2 separate regions of the Homo sapiens genome follow, and region 1 is linked to region 2. Evidence: fine-mapped expression QTL. A gene starts in region 2. The other region holds a variant in brackets. All regions are shown on one strand. Distances are between the middles of the regions.

Region 1 (10,208 bases), 970 kb before region 2:
CTTCTATTCCCCTTACCTAATTAAGAAAGTTTTAAACTAACAGCCAATCGGGTAAAGTGTAAAATGTGAGGTCCTATTCCAGCCAATGGAAACTGGACACAGCACTAGGGTAGACACATCAGATTATAAGTAACTCTGTCTCCTTTGTTTGGTGTGCTCTTGTGGCTGGACAGCTATTGAGTAGCACCCTTTCTGCAGAAAGTAAAGCTTGCCTTGCTAAGAGATCATTTGTTCCCACATTAATTCTTTTTTATTTTGGAACACCAAAAACTTCATTCCCAACAGCACTCTGAGAAAAGCCAGCCTGATACCTAGATTACAGGGTTCACAGCCTTACAGGTTAGTAAGGAAGGTCATTTCCTGGTAGGCCCAGGAATTTAGGGATATTTGGGGGCCTCAAGAAGAGAGGAATTCACACAAAGCTATAAGGACTGCAGCTGAAATATGATAGTAAGTTCTTAGCTTGGCTTTTAGCCTGAATAAGGCCTTTAAAAGTCAAATCTGAGATTCTGTATGAAAACTTCCAGCAAAGAAGCTTGAAAGCACCTACGTGGTCATCTCCTGTTCTTGATGCACTTACGTAAATAATCAAGCAAAATCTAATAAAACTAGACTTATTTTTGAAACAAGAATAGTCTTACTTTGATTATGATCAAAAATGATGGTTACTACAGAGAGAAATTTTATGTTTCAATGGAAAACTATAACATGGCTGGTCATGGCAGCACACACCTATAATTCCAGCACTTTGGGAGGCCAGGAGTTCAAGACCAGCCTGGGCAACGTGGTGAAACCCCGTCTCTACCAAAAGTACAAAAATTAGATGGGCATGGTGGCATGTGCCTGTAGTCCCAGCTAATCAGGAGGCTGAGGAGGGAGGATCGTTTGCACCCAGGAGGTAGAGGTTGCAGTGAGCTGAGATTGCACCTTGCACTCCAGCCTGGGTGACAGAGCCAGACCCTGTCTCAAAAAAAATTTTTTTAAAGGAAAACTATAGCCATTGTGAGTTATCTGATTCTAGTCTTGTTTCTTGTTTCTGGGCTATTTTTACCTCTTTGTAAACTGGATCCTGCCATCTGCTGAATTTTGTCCCGCAATGATACTTGTGGAACAAGAAGCCAAGTATTGTCTCTTCTACTAATGTATCTATTGTCAGTTAATTTGAAGGTCTCCAATCCTGGAACAAAGTTAGAAGAGGAAGGTTTTGCTCCCCAAAATGCATAACCAAATTGTGGTACATTCATATAATGGAATACTATTTAGCCATAGAAAGGAACAAGCTATCAACTCACACAAAGACATGAGTGAATCTTGCATGCACATTGCTAAGTGGAAGAAAACAGTCTGAGAATACACACAGTGTGACCTCATTTAATGAGACACTGGAGAAGGCAAACTACACAGATGGGAAGCCCATGGATTGTCAGCTTCCCAGATGTGTGAGAATCTCTCCTCCCTTCCCAACATTCTCATGCTCTCCCTCTGCCTCTAGAGAATTTCCTGTCCCATCTCTCATGACAAATCCCTTCTTCATTCTTTATGATGCAGCCCCTTCTGCATCTCCTAGAGCCATCCTCAGCTAAATTTTGTTGTGTGAGTAATGAGAAGAGAGCTGTTATTTGTATTTAGTGAATAATAACAAATAAAAGGCATTTAGCCTTCTGGAACCTGGTATGTAGTAGATCCTCATGAAAAACTAGCTCTGTTGATAAAACTAGACTGAAAGGAGCTTTCAAAGTCAACAACGACATCATGCAGTGAAGGACATAGATGAGAAGCTGCTGCTGCAGCCTGGAGCTCCTGGAGGCCCGTTTTGTCCAGGACTTAGCAGGAATGCACTACCTTTCCATAAGGAGACACTGCCCACAGAAACCAAGGCCATTCTTTGAAGACAAACATGTTTTAATAGCCTTACATTATGTAATGGTGTAATATAAATAATATTATTAAGGTAAAATTATTTACATTATTATGTTACGACTTTTGTACAGAGCTTTACACCTAGATATTCTGAAGTTGGTGGTCTGTGAGTGGCATCAAGTGATGACTGACACACTCTGACCTGGGGTAGAACAACACGTGCCCCTGCAGTTTGCTGAATTTCAGGGCATCACCACCTGATTTCAAGAGTGTGTTTTCCTATCCTCTAGAGTTTTGCCCACTTAAGCAACAGCTTTGCTGCAATACAGAACTCCACAATTTATCAAAATATTAATTTGGAGAATACTGGTTCACCTAGTTCATTTTCAAGTTTTCTTAAACTATCAGGCCCATAGCTAATGCCAGTGGCTCCAAGGATGAGAAGGTAAAAAGCCTTTTTTGTTTTCGTTTTTGGCAAGAGAAAAAAAACACATTTCAAACCTTACTGTCTCATGCTATTCACTGGAAAATCAGAAGTGAACACACTCTCCTCCCAGCCCAATCACAGCTACTAAATAACCAAGATCTCCTGCAGGTGCCTTTGCCTTGGCTTTGTGAGCCTGGAGTTGCTGGCTGACACTGGGCAGCAGGAAGCAGAGCTGGTCCCATTCCTCCGTGCTTTCCCCGTGCTGTGGGGACACAGACACATTGAAAAACCTGGGTCCTGCTCTGGCACTGGCTGGGAAGCTATCTGACGTCAGGCTCATAGTGGACTTCTGAGTTGAAAAGAGAGTATGGGTCACCCAGCCCCACTTACTCATTTTACAAAGAATGAAAATGGGTCTCTATGCCAGACATGAGAGTACACATTGTAAGGCTGTGCAAGCTCGCCGCACTTGTATCCGCTCAGCACACACTTACAGAGTGCCGAGTGTCACCAGCATGAGAGGGGCTCTAGTTCCCGGGGTCCCACCCTCCAAAGAGGACAGCACCACCTCGAGGGACAGAGGTGCAAAGAGCAAGGTGGGGGCCCTTCTGCTGGAGAGGCGGCTAGGGAGGGACCTTACAGGAAGTGACACCTGAGCTCTTCTCTGAAGGATGAAGCTGAATTACTTGGAGCTTAGGGCGAAGGGTTGTCCGGGGAAGTGCAGCCTGTGAGCCAAAAGCACGAGTATAATGACTTGTCCAGAGAAGTGTAACAACTTCCATAGTGTTTCTAGGCCAAATCTGCACAGGAGTCACCACAGGAAAGAGCAGGATCCTGGAGCCAGGGCCTTGGATTTCACCCACTGGCAATGGGAATGTTCACTGGGAATTTTGGGGGGCAAAACATGAAAGTGTTTCCTCTTAAAAATAAATAAATTAAAAATAAATAAAAATAAAAAGGAAAGTGTTTCCTCTTAGCTCCAATTCTCTCTGTCTCTCTCTTTCTGTCCCTCTCTCTCTCCCCTATCTTTAATTTGTGTATTATCATAAGAAAACACAGATGTGTCAGATGTGGGGATTAGCAGCCTGCATCTTTCTGGATGACTTGAGGGGAGCACTGTGGCCTCTGTGAGCTTATTTACAATAATTCACGAATCTTGCAAAAAAAAAAAAAGTCATGGCAGCAGAGGTTAGAAAATCTCCTAGTATTTCTTCTGATACTTTGAATTTATGATTAATATGTTTAATCTTCATCTTCTGAAAAGTCACCAGTTGCACAGTGAGGACCATAAAGGGCTTCTGTTTCTGCGGTTTGTGGCTTCAACAGTCAGTGGTTTTGCAGCAGTAGCACTGCATGTGGGTTTTAGGCTGATGATGCTCAACAGTGGACAATTCTCTTCACCTGCCTGAACCCCAATGCCCACCCTTTCATACGGTGCGGGGTCACAGCTGAGCTCTCCAAGACACCTCACAGGATCTCGGTTTCTGAACTGTCGGGTGTCTTCTAGGTGAAGGCTTCATCTCATAGCCTCTGTGGCTTCCTCCAGGTAACACTTGGTTTTTTGACCTAACCCTGGTATTTGTGTGACATATGTGTGAATGTGCTCCCTGTGGCAGCACTGAGGAAAGACTCAGTCATCATAGATGCCGAAAGGCAAACGCATCTCCAGTCTTGCATTATTTTTACCCATCAGCCCATTTGAAAAAGAAAAAAAAAAGCCTCGTGTTATAATTAAATCCCCTCTAGAGGTAATGGGCATTTTTTAAATCTTTCATTTTTTTTATAGTCACATTTGCGCCCAGTGCCTGCCAGGATCCACTAGAGGGCAGAGACACCCATGTGTATTTGTGTGGCACTTGCTGAGTGGTAATAAAAACAGACACCCTGCCCTCCAGGAGCCAACATCCAGTGCCAGGGCCAGCGGCAGCAAGTAAGAAAACCTTGGTTTCCACATCTGCATCAGCTACACAGTGCTCGCACACAGGAGGCATCAGTCAGTTTTCTCAGTTACAGAGAGAAACAAAACGTGTCCTCACTACTTTTTGAATTTACCATGTTATCCAATGTTTTAACTTAATTGAATGAATAAACTCCTTATGTATCTGGACACATGCATGGAAAATTCACAAACATTTCAAAACAAAATAGAGTGGTTTGCTAAAAGAAAATTTCTTTGATACGTGAATTTCACTTTTTTCTATCTTTTAGTGATTTTAATGTAATGAAATTGAGAAGTCTGTGCCTCTAAAAGACTTTTTAAAGAGCACGGTACTTCTCCATTTTGAAAAAAAATTGGCAAAATATCTTCTACTGTAGATAGAAGTTAATTGGCTGAGGGTAATAAACAGAAGATTAAAAAATGAGCTTTATCCCCTGCTATTCTGTCAAGGGCTACAGTGAATTACACACCCTGGCATGGGTTTGCACGACACGTGCTGGAAGCCAGCAGTCATGCAGGCCATGCTCTCCCACACTTAGAAAAAAAGCCCAGGAGAAAGAGCTCCATCAAGTTCACACACAATGACCTCCAGCAAGATGTGGAAAATGCTCAGTTCCACAAAATACCTGTGGCCAAATACTTTGAGCGCACTGCTCTGGCATCAGGTTCCTGTGACGACAGACCCTGAGATGCATTTCTGGATGGAGGCTGCTGCCAGAGGAGACAATGTGACTACAGGTGGCTCACGCTGCTCCAACACTGCAGGGGCCAGTGACTTGGGGCTCCCACCCGCTGTCCTGTTGGGGAACTGCGGAGATTCACCCCAGCTGGGTGGACTCTGCTGTGTCCCCTGTCAAGAAGCCCCTCAGCTTACCTTGGTTTTTCCTTTTTAAAACTCTCTGGTGTTTTTCTCTCCAGTGGGGGCTGCATCTCACCTTAGAAGAAAAGATTTTCCAACTAGGGGCTGTCTTGGTAGCTGGTACAGAGGAAGGTCTCTCTCTGGAGTGAAGTCCAGCCAACTAACTCCAGCCAGAACTCTCACTGAGTGGGGCTGGATCTGCCCTGTTCTCCTCCCATCCTCGTGTGGACTGTGGAAACCCATCCATGCCCTATGCAAAGTCCAGCATCTTGGACTGTAAAATGGCAAAAGCCGAATTTAAAATAGATGATTATGTTGACTCTATGAGGAAAAGAAAGTTCTGAGGTAGACAATTGGTAAGCAAGCAATTATGTGTAACTTGTTAGAACACTAGGGTGTAGTTTATTCGTCTCACTGATTATTTTCTGTTTAACAGGCTAGCTAAGAGCCAGAGGGAGAGAAGGCTGGCTGGGAATTGAGAGGCATGAGGTCACCTCAGTCCCAACATTTCCATGTAAACAATGATGCGAGGTGGGCTGATGGCAGGAGTCCCTGGAAATTCTCACAATCTCAGCTCTTAACTTCTGTAAAATATTATGTCATTTATGATCTCTTTAACAAATAACTTTTTTCTAGTTAAAAAAAGTGTATAATCTCTTTGGAGGATCTTTGGTAAATATAAAATGAGTTATCAAAGAAAAAAATTATTCATAATTTTATCACTCAAATTTTGATAATTATATTCCTGCATTTTTAACTAAACATAGAAATTTTAGATTATACTGTACATAAAATATTGTATCTGTTTTTCATCCAAT[A/T]TTAGATTATAAACGTTTTACATGGCATAAACTATATATGTAAATCAGCTATTTCCACACCTGCTTGATTTAACCCTCCTTATACTATTAGCCATTTAAATGATTTCTACTTTATCCTATGAATAACACTTCCACCAGTTATTATTCTTGTATATAGCTCATTCAATCACTCATAATCTCGTTGAGCATTTATTTATAATTTAGTTGCCTATTACCTGAGTGGACTGTGGTTATATGTTTATATGCTTATTCCAAATATATTGCTAAGATTAGCATTAGAGACAGGAAAATATTCACGGGTTTTGAAACTAGAAGGACCCAAACAAATCCATGAACCAGCTCTGCATACTCTCACCGAGCCTTAGTTTTCTTACACAGAAAGTGAAGACAATGCTATTTGCCTTGTGGCATCTCTGTGAAGTTAAAGAAGACACCGATTGTACACGCAGCAGTACAAGGACAGTGGAAAGCTGGGCCCTAACCAGCTCTAGGGACAATCACCATTGAATGCCCCATGATCCTACTCTCAGGATGCTTGTATGCCATATGCCATGTCAGTATCACTTACTCAGTGAACACATATTTGTTGATTATAAATTACTTCCGTACTCTTTTCTTTGTTTTACATGTTCAAATATCTGTAAAAAAAAAAAAAAAAGGTACAATTATGAAATTAAAAGTTAACTAAAGGGGGATGTTTTCACTATCTCTGAAATTTAACCCACTAAATCCAGATTATAAAGCAAGGAAATGTCTTACGGCCCAACACTTGCCATCCATATTTTTTCAAAGTTAGTGGGCAGGGCAGGGTAGTGGAAGTGAAGGAATCAGAGCTCTGATGGGTGCACATTGTCTTCCCTACAAATCCATTGCTTGTCTGGCCTTCCTTCCTTATTGGGGCTGCTCTATCCTTTTCGGCACATTTGAACTGCTCCCCTGTGAGCTATTCTCATTTGCTTCACTTCTAAATCTGAATTCCATGGGACCCGCATTTAAGGAGAGGGGAACCACTTTGGGACTGGAGGAAGTTCACCTTATGAGTTATACCTGCCTCCTTCCTCTACAGTGAACGGTCTCTGGTGTCCCTGGGTGTTCAGTTTCTTTACACTCATGTGTTACTGACTGTTCAGGTGGCAAATGGCCCATGACCTTTATGGTATTAAAGAGAAAAAAATAAAAAGCTGTGTTCCTTTTTTTTTTTTTTAACTTTTATTTTAGGTTGGGGGGTATATGGGAGGGTTTGTTATACAGGTAAACACGTGTCACAGGGATTTGTTGTACATGTTATTTCATCATCCAGGTATTAAGCCCAGTGCCCAATAGTTATCTTTTCTGCTCCCCTCCCTCCTCCCACCCTCCCCCCTCAAGTAGACCCCAGTGTCTTTTGTTTCCTTCTTTGTGTTCACAAGTTCTTATCATTTAGCTCCCATTTATAAGTGAGAACATGCTGTATTTGGTTTTCTGTTCCTGCATTAGTTTGCTAAGGATAATATCCTTCAGCTTCATCCATACTAATGCAAAAGACATAATCTTGTTCTTTTTTATGGCTGCATAGTATTCCATGGTGTATATGTAGCACATTTTCTTTATCCAGTCCATGATTGATGGGCATTTGGGTTGATTCTATGTCTTTGCTATTGTGAATAGTGCTGCAATGAATATTTGCATGCATGTATCTTCATGGTAGAATTATTTATATTCATCTGGGTATATATCCAGTAATGGGATTGCTAGGTCGAATGGTAGTTCTGCTTTTAGCTCTTTGAGGAATCACCATACTGCTTTCCACCATGGTTGAATTAACTTACACTCCCACCAACATTGTATAAGTGTTCACTTTTCCCTGTAACCTTGCCAGCATCTGTTGGTTTTTTACTTTTTAGTAATAGGCATTCTAACTGGTGTGAGATGGTGCCTCACTGTGGTTTTGATGAGCATTTCTCTAGTGATCAGTGATCTAGAGCTTTTTTCTATAAGCTTGTTTACCACATTTATCTTTTTTTTTTTTTTTTTTGAGCCGGAGTCTTGCTCTGTCACCCAGGCTAGAGTGCAGTGGCGCGACCTCAGCTAACTGCAAGCTCTGCCTCCTGGGTTCATGCTATTCTCCTGCCTCAGCCTCCCAAGTAGCTGGGACTACAGGCGACCACCACCACACCCGGCTAATTTTTTGTATTTTTAGTAGAGACGGGGTTTCACCATGTTAGCCAGGTTGGTCTCAATCTCCTGATGTCATGATCCACCTGCCTCAGCCTCCCAAAGTGCAGGAATTACAGGCGTAAGCCACCACACCCGGCCCACATGTTTGTCTTCTTTGGAGAAGTGTCTCTTCATGTCCTTGGCCCACTTTTTAATGGGGTTGTCTTTCTCTTGTAAATTTGTTTAAGTTCCTTATAGATGCTGGATATTAGACCTTTGTCAGATGCATAGTTTGTAAATACTTTCTTCCAATCTGTAAGTTGCCTGTTTACTTTGTTGATAGTTTCTTTTGCTGTGTAGAAGCTCTTTAGTTTAATTAGATCCCACTCGTCAATTTTTGCTTTTGTTGATATTGCTTTTGGTGTCTTTGTCACGAAATCTTTGCCTGTTCTTATGTCCAGGATGGTATTGCCTAGGTTGTCTTCCAGGGTTTTTATATTTTTGGGTTTTACACTTAAGTCTTTAATCCATCCTGAGTTCATTTTTGTGTATGGTGTAAGAAAGGGGCCCAGCTCCCAGCACCATTTATTGAACGGGGTCTTTTCCCCATTGCTTGTCAGAAAAGCTGTTTCTAAGGCTTTGCCCAACATACCTTTAACTTTTGACCACATCTTTCCCCCGGTCAATAGGCTCCAGGAAATGGGACAGGATTCTTGGAAATAAAGAGCTGACCCTGAGACAACGCAGGTGAACACAGACTAGCTGCTGCATAATAAGTAAACAAAATGTGTGTCTTTCATTCAATATTAAACAATGATAGACTGAGTATGTAAGAATGTTACCATCACAGGTATGGAAGTGCCTAACTATGACTTAAATTGTAGAGCCTCAGATTTTAGATCTGGAAGAGCCATGGGTTTTAATCCATGCTGGGAGAGGCTCAAGGTTACTCTGGAGAAACATGTAGTTTGGGGGGGCTGGAGACTGAGGGGAGGCTGGAGACTGAGGGGTGGGCTCCCATTCCCCAGCTCCTTCAATGAATCTATTTTATACGTCAGTTATTGGAAAATGATTCAAACAACTCAACCCAATTCCCTATTATTTGGTCAAAGCCCTCAGCCCTCAGACTTCTTGCCACTGTAGCTGTGGGCTCCCCCTCTCCACCTGCTTTCCTGCTCAGGTTGGGGCAGCCAAAGACTTTCTCTTCCTGGGGAGAGAGTTTAGGGAGGGACCATTTTTTGATTATTTGAGGGTGTGGTTCAGTTGTAAACAGTATAAGTTTTAGAATTTGTGTTATTGTGATGGCAATGACCAACTGCAAAATATTTCCCATTTGCCTTGTCATAAGAGCACGTATTTTATGCAATTGAAGTTTTTGGATCCTACTTATTTACTTTACTTTATTAAGAATAGTGACATTTGAGCAGAGTTCTAATTTTGCATCAGAGTCAAAAGTGAAAATGAAAGGAACTGACCCATGAAGGAACAGGTGTGAGCTATTTACTTCATTCCTGCCCGTCCTGGTTGATGTTGAGCTCTTGCCCTGCATCCCACTTTCAAATGTGGTAGAGGCCTCACCTAGGAAAGACCCTCTCCACGCTGGCTTGCTCTGCTCACCCAACTGTACTTACTTCTCTGAATCCCCTATGAACACTGTTTTCTAGGTTGAGTGTGTTTTCTGTAATAAAAAGGTATTGTTGCACCACTTACTGAGGACTTTTTGGATGCCATGCTAAGCATTTCATAGTCACGAGCTCATTGTACAAACTACCCTTTATAACACTCCTATGAATTTATATTCCCATATGAATTGGCCTGAGGAAGTGGCGTGCTGGAGAGATTAAGTAATTGAATGACAGCATACAGTTAATTACTGAGGGGATTTGGGTTTGGACCTGGATCTGTGATTCAAACACTCATGTCTATAACCACAAGTGCTGCCACATCATTTGCATCAGGATTTAGAATCCCTGCTGGCAGGCCTGGGAAGATGCATTGTAACCAGATAAGAGATAATTACCACATTTACTGAGTTGTGAGAACCACTGTACTGCCTCTGAGAGAATGCCAGGCGCCCCTGTGTTTGTCTCAGTGTCTCCAGCTTGAATTGCTTCACCCCTGGCTCTCGGCAATGCTGCTCCTCTCTCCTGCATGGATCACCTGCTCCTG
Region 2 (10,208 bases):
AAAATTAGCCGGGGGTGGTGGCGGGCGCCTGTAGTCCCAACTGCTCGGGAGGCTGAGGCAGGAGAATCGCTTGAACCCGGGAGGCAGAGCTTGCAGTGAGCCGAGATCGCGCCACTGCACTCCAGCCTGGGTGACAGCGAGACTCCGTCTCAAAAAAAAAAAAAATTCTGAAAAAATGAAAGAGGCAAAGCAACTGGAAGAGCCTGACTTTAAAGCCGCCTCCGAGTCAGCCTCTTGCTTCCTGAGGGAGCCCGGGGTGGCCGGGAGCTGCCCCACTCCAGGAGAGCCTGCAGCCTGCACCTTGCCCTGCCATCCCCCTCAACGTGCTTTCCTTCTTCAGAGGCCTTCTCGGACAGAACCCCTACAAGAGAGGCCCTGAGGTGACCATCCTTAAGGTGGGCCTCCCGCACTGGCAACCTCCCAGAGGCTGATAGCAGTGGTCCCTGAGATTGGGAGGGTCCTGAATAGGGGCTGGGTCAAGCCTGCTGCCCTTTGACGGCCATAAAACCACCAGGGTTATAGGCCGGGTGCAGTGGCTCACGCATGTAATCCCGGCACTTTGGGAGGCTGAGGTGGGAGGATCATGAGGTCAGGAGATCGAGACCATCCTGGCTAACACGGTGAAACCCCGTCTCTACTAAAAATACAAAAAAATTAGCCGGGCGTGGTGGCGGGCGCCTGTAGTCCCAGCTACTCGGGAGGCTGAGGCAGGAGAATGGCAGGAACCCGATCGCGCCACTGCCCTCCAGCCTGGGCGACAGAGCGAGACTCCGTCTCAAAAAATATATAAAAATAAATTAAAAACCACCAGGATTGCTGAACACGGCTTAGCGGGCACAGCCAGGAGTCACGTGTCCTCCGTCACTCCCACGGACAGAGGGGCGCCTAGCGACGGTGCGGCTGAGCTCGGGGCCGACTCTGCCCAGGCCCACTCGACGTCTGGGCCTTCCCCACGCGGCGTGGCCACAGCCCGCTTCTCCTGGACAGCCGCTCATCACCCTCGTCCCAGCAAGATCAGGTCCGCACGCTCTGGCTCAGGCCTCCAACACAGGGCAAAGGGAAGGCGGGAGGCGCAAAGGGACGGCCCAGAGCCGGCCTGCGCCGCTGGATCTGCAGACTGGGCGCTTGTCTCCCCACCTCCCTGCATGCACCCCTGCTTGCTTTCAGGCAGGAGGGTCTGTGGGTCGGGGGAGTCAGGTGATGCTTCGCACACGAAGTCCTGCAGCCCCAGCTCCAGAGGAGGGTGGCCTCTGGCCCAGAAGCTAGGACTCACCATGGCCTGAGCTTGTTGACGCTGCCATGGTCAACGCAGCAGGGCAGGCCCCAGAAGAAGGGGGCATCCCTCCTCACCGTTTAAAGCAAATTATCAAACAGACACAAAAATCTCCTCAGTCAGTCATCTTCAAAGAGTTCCATCTTGTTGCTTTTTTTTTATTTTTAATCTACCCTCTGCTTTTTTTTTCTTTGCTGGAGGTTTTTGTTGTTTTTTTTTTGAGACAGAGTCTCACTCTGTTGCCCAGGCTGGAGTGCAGTGGTGTGATCTGGGTTCACTGCAACCTCCACCTCCTGAACTTTCGATCCTCCTGCCTCAGCCTCTCGAGTAGCTGGGATTACAGGCACCCACCACCACGCCCGGCTAATTTTTGTGTTTACAGTAGAGAAGGGGTTTCACCATGTTGGCCAGGCTGGCCTCAAACTCCTGACCTCAAGTGATCCTCCCACCTCGGCTTCCCAAAGTGCTGGGATTACAGGTGTGAGCCACTGTACCCTGCGTGCTGGAGTATTTTTAAAGCCAACTCCAGACTTCATATCATTTTACCCATAAGTACTCTTCTCTTTTGTCAAATAAAAAACAAATCAGGGCCATGCACAGTGGTTCATGCCGGTAACCCCAGTGCTTCGGGAGGCCGGGGCAGGAGGACTGCTTGAGCCCAGGAATTTGACACCACCTAGGCAACATAGCAAGACCCCCATCTCTACAAAAACTAAAAAATTAGCCAGGTGTGGTGGCACATGCCTGTGGTCCTAGCTACTCAGGAGGCTGAGGTAGAAGGATCACTTGAGCCCGGAAGTTCCAGGCTGCAGTGAGCCAAGTTCACACCACTGCACTCCAGCCTGGGTGACAGAAAAAGACCCTGTCACAAACCAGAAAAAAAAAAAAAAAAAAGCAAATCTCCAATGCGTAGAAGCAGAAAGTAGAAGAGTGGTTGCCAGGAGCAATAAATAAATAAATTGAGAGCGTTTTAAAAAATCTAGACTTGGTACTGTTTCTGAAAGGATGATTGCAAGTGTGTCAGACCGGTGAGGTCTCAAGAGTTGGGCAAAACGCGGTTTTCTTGTGTGCAGTGGAGCAGCAGGTGTGGGGAGGGGGGGTGGGGGGCCTGTTGACCAGGCAGCAATGCGAGAAAGCTGCATCTGAACCCCTGCCCAGGCTGAGGCTGGGCACGCAGTCAAGGCCCTGGTAGAGACTTAACCAGAACTGGTCACTGGGCCCATGGTCAGGGCCCTGGAGGAGACTTAACCAGAACTGGTCACTGGGCCCACGGTCAGGGCCCTGGAGGAGACTTAACCAGAACTGGTCACCAGTGTATTTGGTTCCAATTAGAACAACAGTTCAGTTACATATTTATGAGGCAAAAGACAGGACTTTGGAGGATGTGTCCAGCCTTGTCACAGGTAAATAAGGGACATCATGAATCTCATCTTTGTCACCTGGGGACAGGGTTCTGAGCTGTTTCCAGAACATAAAGGGGGGGACTTCCTAACCTCCCAGGATCATAGGGCTCAGGTAAAGCTTATCTGTCAATTTTCCTTAAAAATAATCATTACTGTTATATATTATTATGTATGTATATACACACACACCTCAGATGAGGGCTTGACTCTCCCTGAAATATTAACACACCCTTTCCACCTATAACATTGCCCCCTCGCCGCCGATTTCTGTCTCCAGCCCTCTGCTGAAAATCAGGCCACGGGTTCCACAGCCTGGCTGCACAATGCGGTCCATGGGCCAGAGCAGGGCCTCCTGCTAGCAGGTTGGAAATGCAGCGTCCCAGTCCCCAGCCAGCTCTGCAGCACCAGGACCCACAGGTCTCTGGCAAGACCTGTCCTCCCCTCAGGGCTAGAGTCGCACTGCACTGGAATTTCCTGCAGTGAGATTTGGGTGACCCTCCCCACTCCCAGTTGCCCGTCTCCTGTAACCAGGCAGCATGTGGTCAATTGACTGGCTTCAGCCTCCAGGACAGCCTGGAGCTCCGTGGGGTTTGGCACATGCTGTGGCTCCACGAAGATGCCCACGTCATGGTTCATCACTGCTCGGTGGGTTCTGCTGCCGTTATCTTTGTCCTCTGTACTCACATCCCATTTTCTCAGGTCCTCCCGGCCTTGGGGATGCTAGACGTTCCTTCTATCTTGATGGGCACCCCAGAACTGAAGTACTCCTGAAGCCCTTCTAACTTCCAAAGGGCAGCAGCTTCTACAAAAAAAGCAACAAGGGCCAGGCACAGTGGCTCGCGCCTGTAATCCCAGCACTTTGGGAGGCCAAGGTGGGCGGATCACCTGAGGTCGGGAGTTCGAAAACAGCCTGGCCAACATGGAGAAACCCCCGTCTCTACTAAAAATACAAAATTAGTTGGGCGTAGTGGCGCATGCCTGTAATCCCAGCTACTTGGGATGCTGAGGCAGGAGAATCGCTTGAACCCAGGAGGCGGAGGTTGCAGTGAGCCGAGATTGAGCTATTGCACTCCAGCCTGGGCAACAAGAGTGAAACTCCGACTCAAAAAAAAAAAAAAAAAAAAGCAACAAGACGGCTGAATTCCTGAAGGGAGGAGGGGCATCATGGGTGGTGACCCCACAGAGGCCCCCTGGTGTGGCCCCTGAGGCCCCTCAGACTGAAGAGGGCCTCCTGCAAGGGAGCTGGGTCCCCCGGGGGAGGGTGAATTCTGAGTCCCTGAACTGCAGGGCAAGCTGACCCAGAGCTCCAGCACTGCAAAGCCTCCCCCGGAAAGGGCTGTCTGGAGCGGCTGTGGCCAGCACAGTCACTCCTGGGGTGGGTGTGCACCTGGCTTTTGCATCATGGCTGACTGTGCTGGTGGCTTCACAGAAAGGGAGTTTGTGTGAGGATGCTCGGGTGCCTGCTGGGTGCTTGGCACTGGGGTCGGGGGGGCGGTGAATGGAGGCACCTGAGGGACACAGTCCCAGGTGGGAGCTGTCCCAGGTGGGAGCTGTTCCAGATAGGAGCTGCTGTCTCCCAGTCAGGTCCCAGGTTGGGGCTTGGCCAGGCCTGGGCTGGAGCGGGAGACCTTTCTAGCTGCCTCGGTCTGGCTGCCCACCCTGCACAGAGCCTGGGGCTCTGGCCTCTCTGTATCTCTCCTCTCCACTCTTCCTGGAGGGCACCGCTCTTATCTGACCTGCTCCCCCACAGTCTCCCTACATCTGGCCCAAAAATACACTTGGTGGCAGTCCCGCCATCACACTCAGGCTCGGGAGCTGGCGGCCCCTGGTCCGTGCTGCCTGCCACGCTGCTTTCCACGGCAGTGGTGGGAAAGGGAGGTTAGAACCCCATCTCCATGGCCAGAAGGCAGGAATTAGGGAAAAGGGGAGCCGTGAGGCTTCCAGGCCTGGGGTTGGAACAGAAGCTGCGCGGTGTGGGGCGATTTGGGCGCAGGACCCCGGGTGCTGGGAAGTGGGGAGCAGGACTGTGTCTGTTGCTCCAGAAAGCGCGAGGGATGCGATATAGGAAATTCGGGCGTCAGTTAGAGCCCGAGAGGGGTTCAGGGAGTCACTGACTTAGGCAGAGAGGAGCCCAGACGGGGTTCGAAGACCCTGGGGACGGACGCCCACCTGTCAGTCCTGGACTGTGGGGCACCCGTAGGCCGAGGGGCAGGAGGCTATGGCCCTGTCTCCTGGCTTGGGTCTAAACATCCCAAGGAGGTCAGACCGTAGAGTGGGGGCTGTGTGATCTTTCAAATGAGGGACGCCGCGTGTTACCAAAGGCCAGTGCTGAGGAGCTGGGCTGAAAGCTTGGGGAGTTCCCAGAACCAGCAGACTAGGAACGGGAGGAACCGTGTCGGGGGCTCTGCTCCGCTGGGCACTGACCCCCACCCCGCCCCCCGGTCTTGCAAGGGCTGGAGAAGGGTGAAAGGCAGAGGCGGGAGTCCGCACTTAGGGACCGGTCCGTTCCACACGCTGCTGACCAGGCTCCTGGGTGGCGCTCGCATGGAACATTCCGGAAACACCCATGGGAAGGTCCCAAGTTGGTTCCGAAAGGCCCTGACGGACGCGCAGGGGACGCTGAGCCTGTGATCCTCGCCTCACCCAGACGAGGCCGGGCTGCTTCTCACAGGAAAGTGCGTCTGGAGTCCGGGGACGGCCTCCTCCTGGGGCCTGTCCAGGTCGCCCTGGGCCTAAATTACAGGCGGGGAGAGGCCTGTCGGAGGAGCCCCCGCTCCAGACCCCTGGGGGACCCAGGGCGAGGTCGCCCCAGCGCCTCACGTCTGGGGGCTCCCCTTTGCCACGTCGCCAGAGCAAAATTCAAAATCTGCAGTTCTGGCAAATTTCCGGGGCCTCCCGGACACGAAAAGCAGCTGAAATCTCAGGACAATGTCATTGGATGCGGACCGAGAAGAAGCCGTTCGGAACCAGAGCTGCCCCGGATTCTCCCAGGCCTGGCTCGCCGGTGGGGGGACCCCGGTCCCTGGTTTGGGGGGGCAGGAACGGGCGGGCGCCCCTGGGGGCTTCTCATTTGTGTGTTGGTCTCGGCCTTGAAATGCAGCGGAGAAAATAAAAAATAAAATAAAAATAGGAGTCAGGTGTCAGAGTCGGGTCGGCCAGGCACTGAGGTTTGAAGGAATCGCAGAAGAAGCTCCTCTCACCCGGGTCCAGGCCGCGGGGGTTCTGCGGGAGGCGCCCCCGATTCTGCCCGCGGGACGCCGCGGCCTCGGAAGCCCCGGGAGCAGGCCCCGCCCCGCCCCCACCCTCCTCTCTCCCCAAGTCCTCCCGCCCCCCCAGCCCCGCCCCTCCCCCGCCCTGGGTGCTCCCCTGCCCCTCCCCCGGCCCTCCCCCGCCCCTCACCCGCTCCTGCCCCTCCTCTCTCCCCAGGTCCTCCCGCCCCCAGCCCCGCCCCTCCCCCGCCCTGGGTGCTCCCCTGCCCCTCCCCCGCTCCTGCCCCTCCTCTCTCCCCAAGTCCTCCCCGCCCCCAGCCGCCCCTCCCCCCGCCCTGCCCCCCCCCGCCCCCGCCTCCAGCCCCGCCCCTCTCCGCTCCCCGCCCCGCCCCCACGCGCCCGCGGTCCCGCCGGAAGGACTTAAGCGCCCCGGAGCCGGGAGGCGAACTTGGGACCCGCTGGCCTCGCTCGGTGCGCGCCTCCCTCCCCGCATGCAGCCCGCCGAGCGCTCGCGGGTCCCCAGGTGTGTGGCGCGGGGTGCGGGCGTCCCCGGCGGCTGCGGTCCCCGCGCGGGCCCGCGACCCCCCAGAGGAAACTTCGGGGACGCCGGCCTCCTTCTCTCGGTTTTGCAGGATCGACCCGTACGGATTCGAGCGGCCTGAGGACTTCGACGACGCCGCCTACGAGAAGTTTTTCTCCAGCTACCTGGTCACGCTCACCCGCAGGGCGATCAAATGGTCCCGGCTGCTGCAGGGCGGGGGCGTCCCCAGGAGCCGGACAGGTGGGTCCCGGGGGCGCAGGTGGGTCCCGAGGGCGCAGGTGGGTTGGGCTGGGACGGGCCGGGCAAAGTCCGGGCTCCCGGAGCGGAGGGAGGGGGAGGAACCTTTCCGGGCAGGTCGGGACGAAGCTGCGGGCTCCGAGCTAGGGCAGCCGCAGGGACCGGTTTTCCCGCTTTGAGATGGGCCGGCGGGTCGGACGCGAAGGAGACCCGTCCCTCCCAGCAGGGAGCCATATCGGGATGGATCAAAACTCGATCCATGCCGGGCGCGGTGGCTCACGCCTGTAATCCCAGCGCTTTGGGAGGCCGAGGCGGGCGGATCACGAGGTCAGGAGTTTGAGACCAGCCTGACCAACATGGTGAAACCCCGTCTCTACTAAAAATACAAAATTAGCCGGGCGTGGTGGCTCCTGCCTGTAGTCCCAGCTACTCTGGAGGCTGAGGCAGGAGAATCGCTTGAACCCAGTAGGCGGAGGTTGCAGTGAGCCGAGATTGCGCCATTGCACTCCAGCCTGGGCGACAGAGCGAGACTCCGTCCTTGTGACGGGACCCACAGGGCCCTGCTCGACCTGCCGCTCCTCCGCGACCCCAGGCCTCCTACTGCTGCGGTGAGCACCGGCCTGACCGCCCGCCCGCCTCGGGGTTAGCTGCAGGGCCCCCTCCTCCGGGGCGCCCCAGGCTTCCCTGTGCGGAGGGCACCTCCTCATTTCTGCCTTTCCCAGCACAGCCCCTGCTGGAGTCAAAAACCCTTCCTCCCTGCAACGGATTTTTCATTCACTGCTCAGTCCTCAGAACCTGGGGCAGTGCCAGGCGACTTCCCTGTGTGTTCAGTGAATGAATGAAGTGTCTGCCTGGGGTGAGGGCTTGGTGGGAGTGTGCCCTGGAGCTAGGAACTCAGAGAAGTGGGGTCAAAGGGGAGTCCTGGGGGCTTCCTGAGAAGGGGGATGTGAATGGCAGCTGGGCTTCCAGGGACCGAGCAGTAGGGACCTGGTGGGGAAGGACAGAGATGAAACCAGGGGCCCTGCACCTGGGCGGAGGGTCGGAGGTGTGTGGTGACCACGGCCAGGCACAGAGAAGCCAACTGTTAAAGGTTTTCCAGGCAGGGGGTGACAAGATCAACTTTTGCTTTTATTTATTTATTTGAGACAGGGTATCCCTCTGAGTGCAGTGGCACAATCACCACTCACTGTAGCCTTGACCTCCTGGGCTCCAGCCATCCTCCCCTCTCAGCCTCCCGCATAGCTGGGACCACTGGTGTGGCCACCACTCCTGGCTAATTTTTAAATTTTTTATAGAGATGGAAGTTAATATCCTATATGCTTCCCACGAATGCATCATGTCCCATCCCTGTGGCCTCTGCATGTTCACATGTTTCCAGTGGAACGTGTGTCTTTATTTTTCCTTTTCATTTATTCTTTTTGATTTATTTATTTTTGAGACAGAGTCTCACTCTGTCGCCCAGGCTGGAGTGCAGTGGTGCGATCTCAGCTGACTGCAACCTCCACCTCCTGGGTTCAAGTGATTCTCCTGCCTCAGCCTCCTGAGTAGCTGGGATTACAGGTGCACACCACTACACCTGGCTAATTTATTTTTTATTTTCTTATTTTTTTTATTTTGAGACGGAGTCTCACTCTGTCGCCCAGGCTAGAGTGCAGTGGCATGATTTCAGCTCATTGCAACCTCTGCCTCCTGGGTTCAAGCGATTTTCCTGCCTCAGCCTCCCAAGTAGCTGGGATTACAGGCACCTACCACCACGCCAGGCTAATTTTTCTATTTTTTAGTAGAGATGGGTTTTACCATATTGGCCAGGCTGGTCTCAAACTCCTGACCTCAAGGGATCTGCCCACGTTGGCCTCCCAAAATGCTGGGATTACAGGCATGAGCCACTGCGCCTGATTTATTCTTAAAAGTTAACTGTCTTTTAATTTTAAAAAGTAACGTAAAAGTATATAAGACATGTGAACTTAAAAAGCATAATTTATGTACATGGTAAACACTTTAATCATACTGAGGGCTACAAAGTGCAACAGGGAGTTTCTCTCCCACCCATGGCCCCCATCTCCTATAGAGATGACCGCAGGGGACTGTCCTTCCGTCCCCCTCAGGAGCAGAAGTCCACGCTTGGTTCTGCAGTTTGCTTTAAGAGCAGGGGAAGTCCGTGGGAAGTCCTGTGGCTGTGACCTGGAGGTTGGTTACAGCGGAGAATCTGAAAGATGTATGGTTGTGCATAAATTTTTGTTTTTACAGAAAACACAACTGCACAGTCATTCTCCCGTCTTTGCCTTTGCCATTTGGGTCTGTCCTATTGCTGTCCTTTTCTTCGACCAGGAGCTGCTAACTTGGGTTCCATATTTTCCTTTTTAGGGAACCACTCAGCACATTGCCCCCACTTTCCAATATGGACTTGGGAGGGGGTTCTGGGAAGAGCAGGGAAAAGGAAAAGAGCAATCCGGATGCAAAATCCTCCAGATTTTTATTCTTTTCCCCACTCCTTTGCAATTATTTTACACCTAAGTCAACAGTTTTGTTTTTGCTTTTTTTTTTTTTTTTTTTTAGCATTGGTCTCTATCAACTCTTTCTAAAAATTTCATTTTGTTTTTATTGAAGTAACAACTTTCTTCTTTTTGCTTTAATTTTTTTTTTTTTTTTTTTTTTGAGTCAAAGTCTAGCTCTGTCAGCCTGGCTGGAGGGTAGTGGCGCAATCTCGGCTCACTGCAACCTCTGCCTCCCAGGTTCAAGCAATTCTCCTGCCTCAGCCTCCTGAGTAACTGGGATTACAGGCACTCGCCACCATGCCCGGCTAATTTTTGTGTTTTTAGGAGAGATGGGTTTTGCCTTGTTGGCCAGGCTGGTCTCGAACTCCTGAGCTCCAGTGATCCGCCCACCTCAGCCTCCCAAAATGCTGGGATGACAGGCGTGAGCCACCATGCTGGGCTAATTTATGTAATGTTAAGTGGACCATGTAATTATGGTAGCAAGCATCACTGGCATAAATGGGTCTGTGAGCAAATATATCTCTTTGATCCTATATGAGCCTCAGCCTGAGGGGTGGGAGCCACAGGGCTGTGGGCCTGTTCTGCAGGGAGTAGGGATGCTGGTGACTCCGGTGGGAGGCACATGGAGTCAGTGATCGCGTGTCTCTACTGGCCTGGGGCCTGGGTCCCAGTGTGACCGTCAGGGTGCCCATGAGCACTGGCAAAGCCCCAAGAGCAGAGGGTCGGGTATAAAACTGGAGTGGACGAGTTATTCCAAAAATGGGAATACCACTTCTTCCTGCCAGGTATTCCAGGCTGACAGTGATAGAGTTCTTTCCTCTCCTTTTGGAGGGTTTTCATCTGCACTCCCCATGTTAAAGTCTCCAGGAACACAATCATCTACCAATCTCAGCATTCCACATGTCTTAAGGGACAGTTATTATGTATTCTGCCTGATCACACTCTTGGTGGGTACAATAAATATTGTATTTTCCTTTTTCCATAGCAAATATCCACCAGGAGCCCTTAGGAAGACAGCTTCCTCTTCCTCCCTGGAAAGACTAAATTCAA

The links. PIP is the estimated chance that this variant, and not a neighbour inherited with it, causes the effect. A credible set is the group of variants that fine-mapping cannot tell apart.
Region 1: its variant is the best candidate, but not a certain one, in a credible set for the expression of GRTP1 in esophagus muscle (GTEx, PIP 0.55).

What each region holds. Positions count from the first base shown.
Region 1 is chr13:114,333,890-114,344,097 of GRCh38, reverse strand. LOC112268113 (a long non-coding RNA gene) reads right to left here and starts at 5,751. Exons shown (of 3, transcript XR_007063890.1): 1 at 5,101-5,751; 2 at 1,052-1,177. LINC01054 (long intergenic non-protein coding RNA 1054) reads left to right here and starts at 10,150. Exons shown (of 3, transcript NR_126391.1): 1 at 10,150-10,208. The variant A/T (reference allele first, on the strand shown) is at 5,904.
Region 2 is chr13:113,360,220-113,370,427 of GRCh38, reverse strand. It overlaps GRTP1 (growth hormone regulated TBC protein 1), which reads left to right and starts at 6,298. Exons shown (of 8, transcript NM_024719.4): 1 at 6,298-6,408; 2 at 6,518-6,666. The coding sequence starts at 6,377. GRTP1-AS1 (GRTP1 antisense RNA 1) reads right to left here. Exons shown (of 2, transcript NR_120385.1): 2 at 8,560-8,869. RefSeq lists enhancers at 2,657-3,350, 4,045-4,738, 4,739-5,432 and a silencer at 6,420-6,714.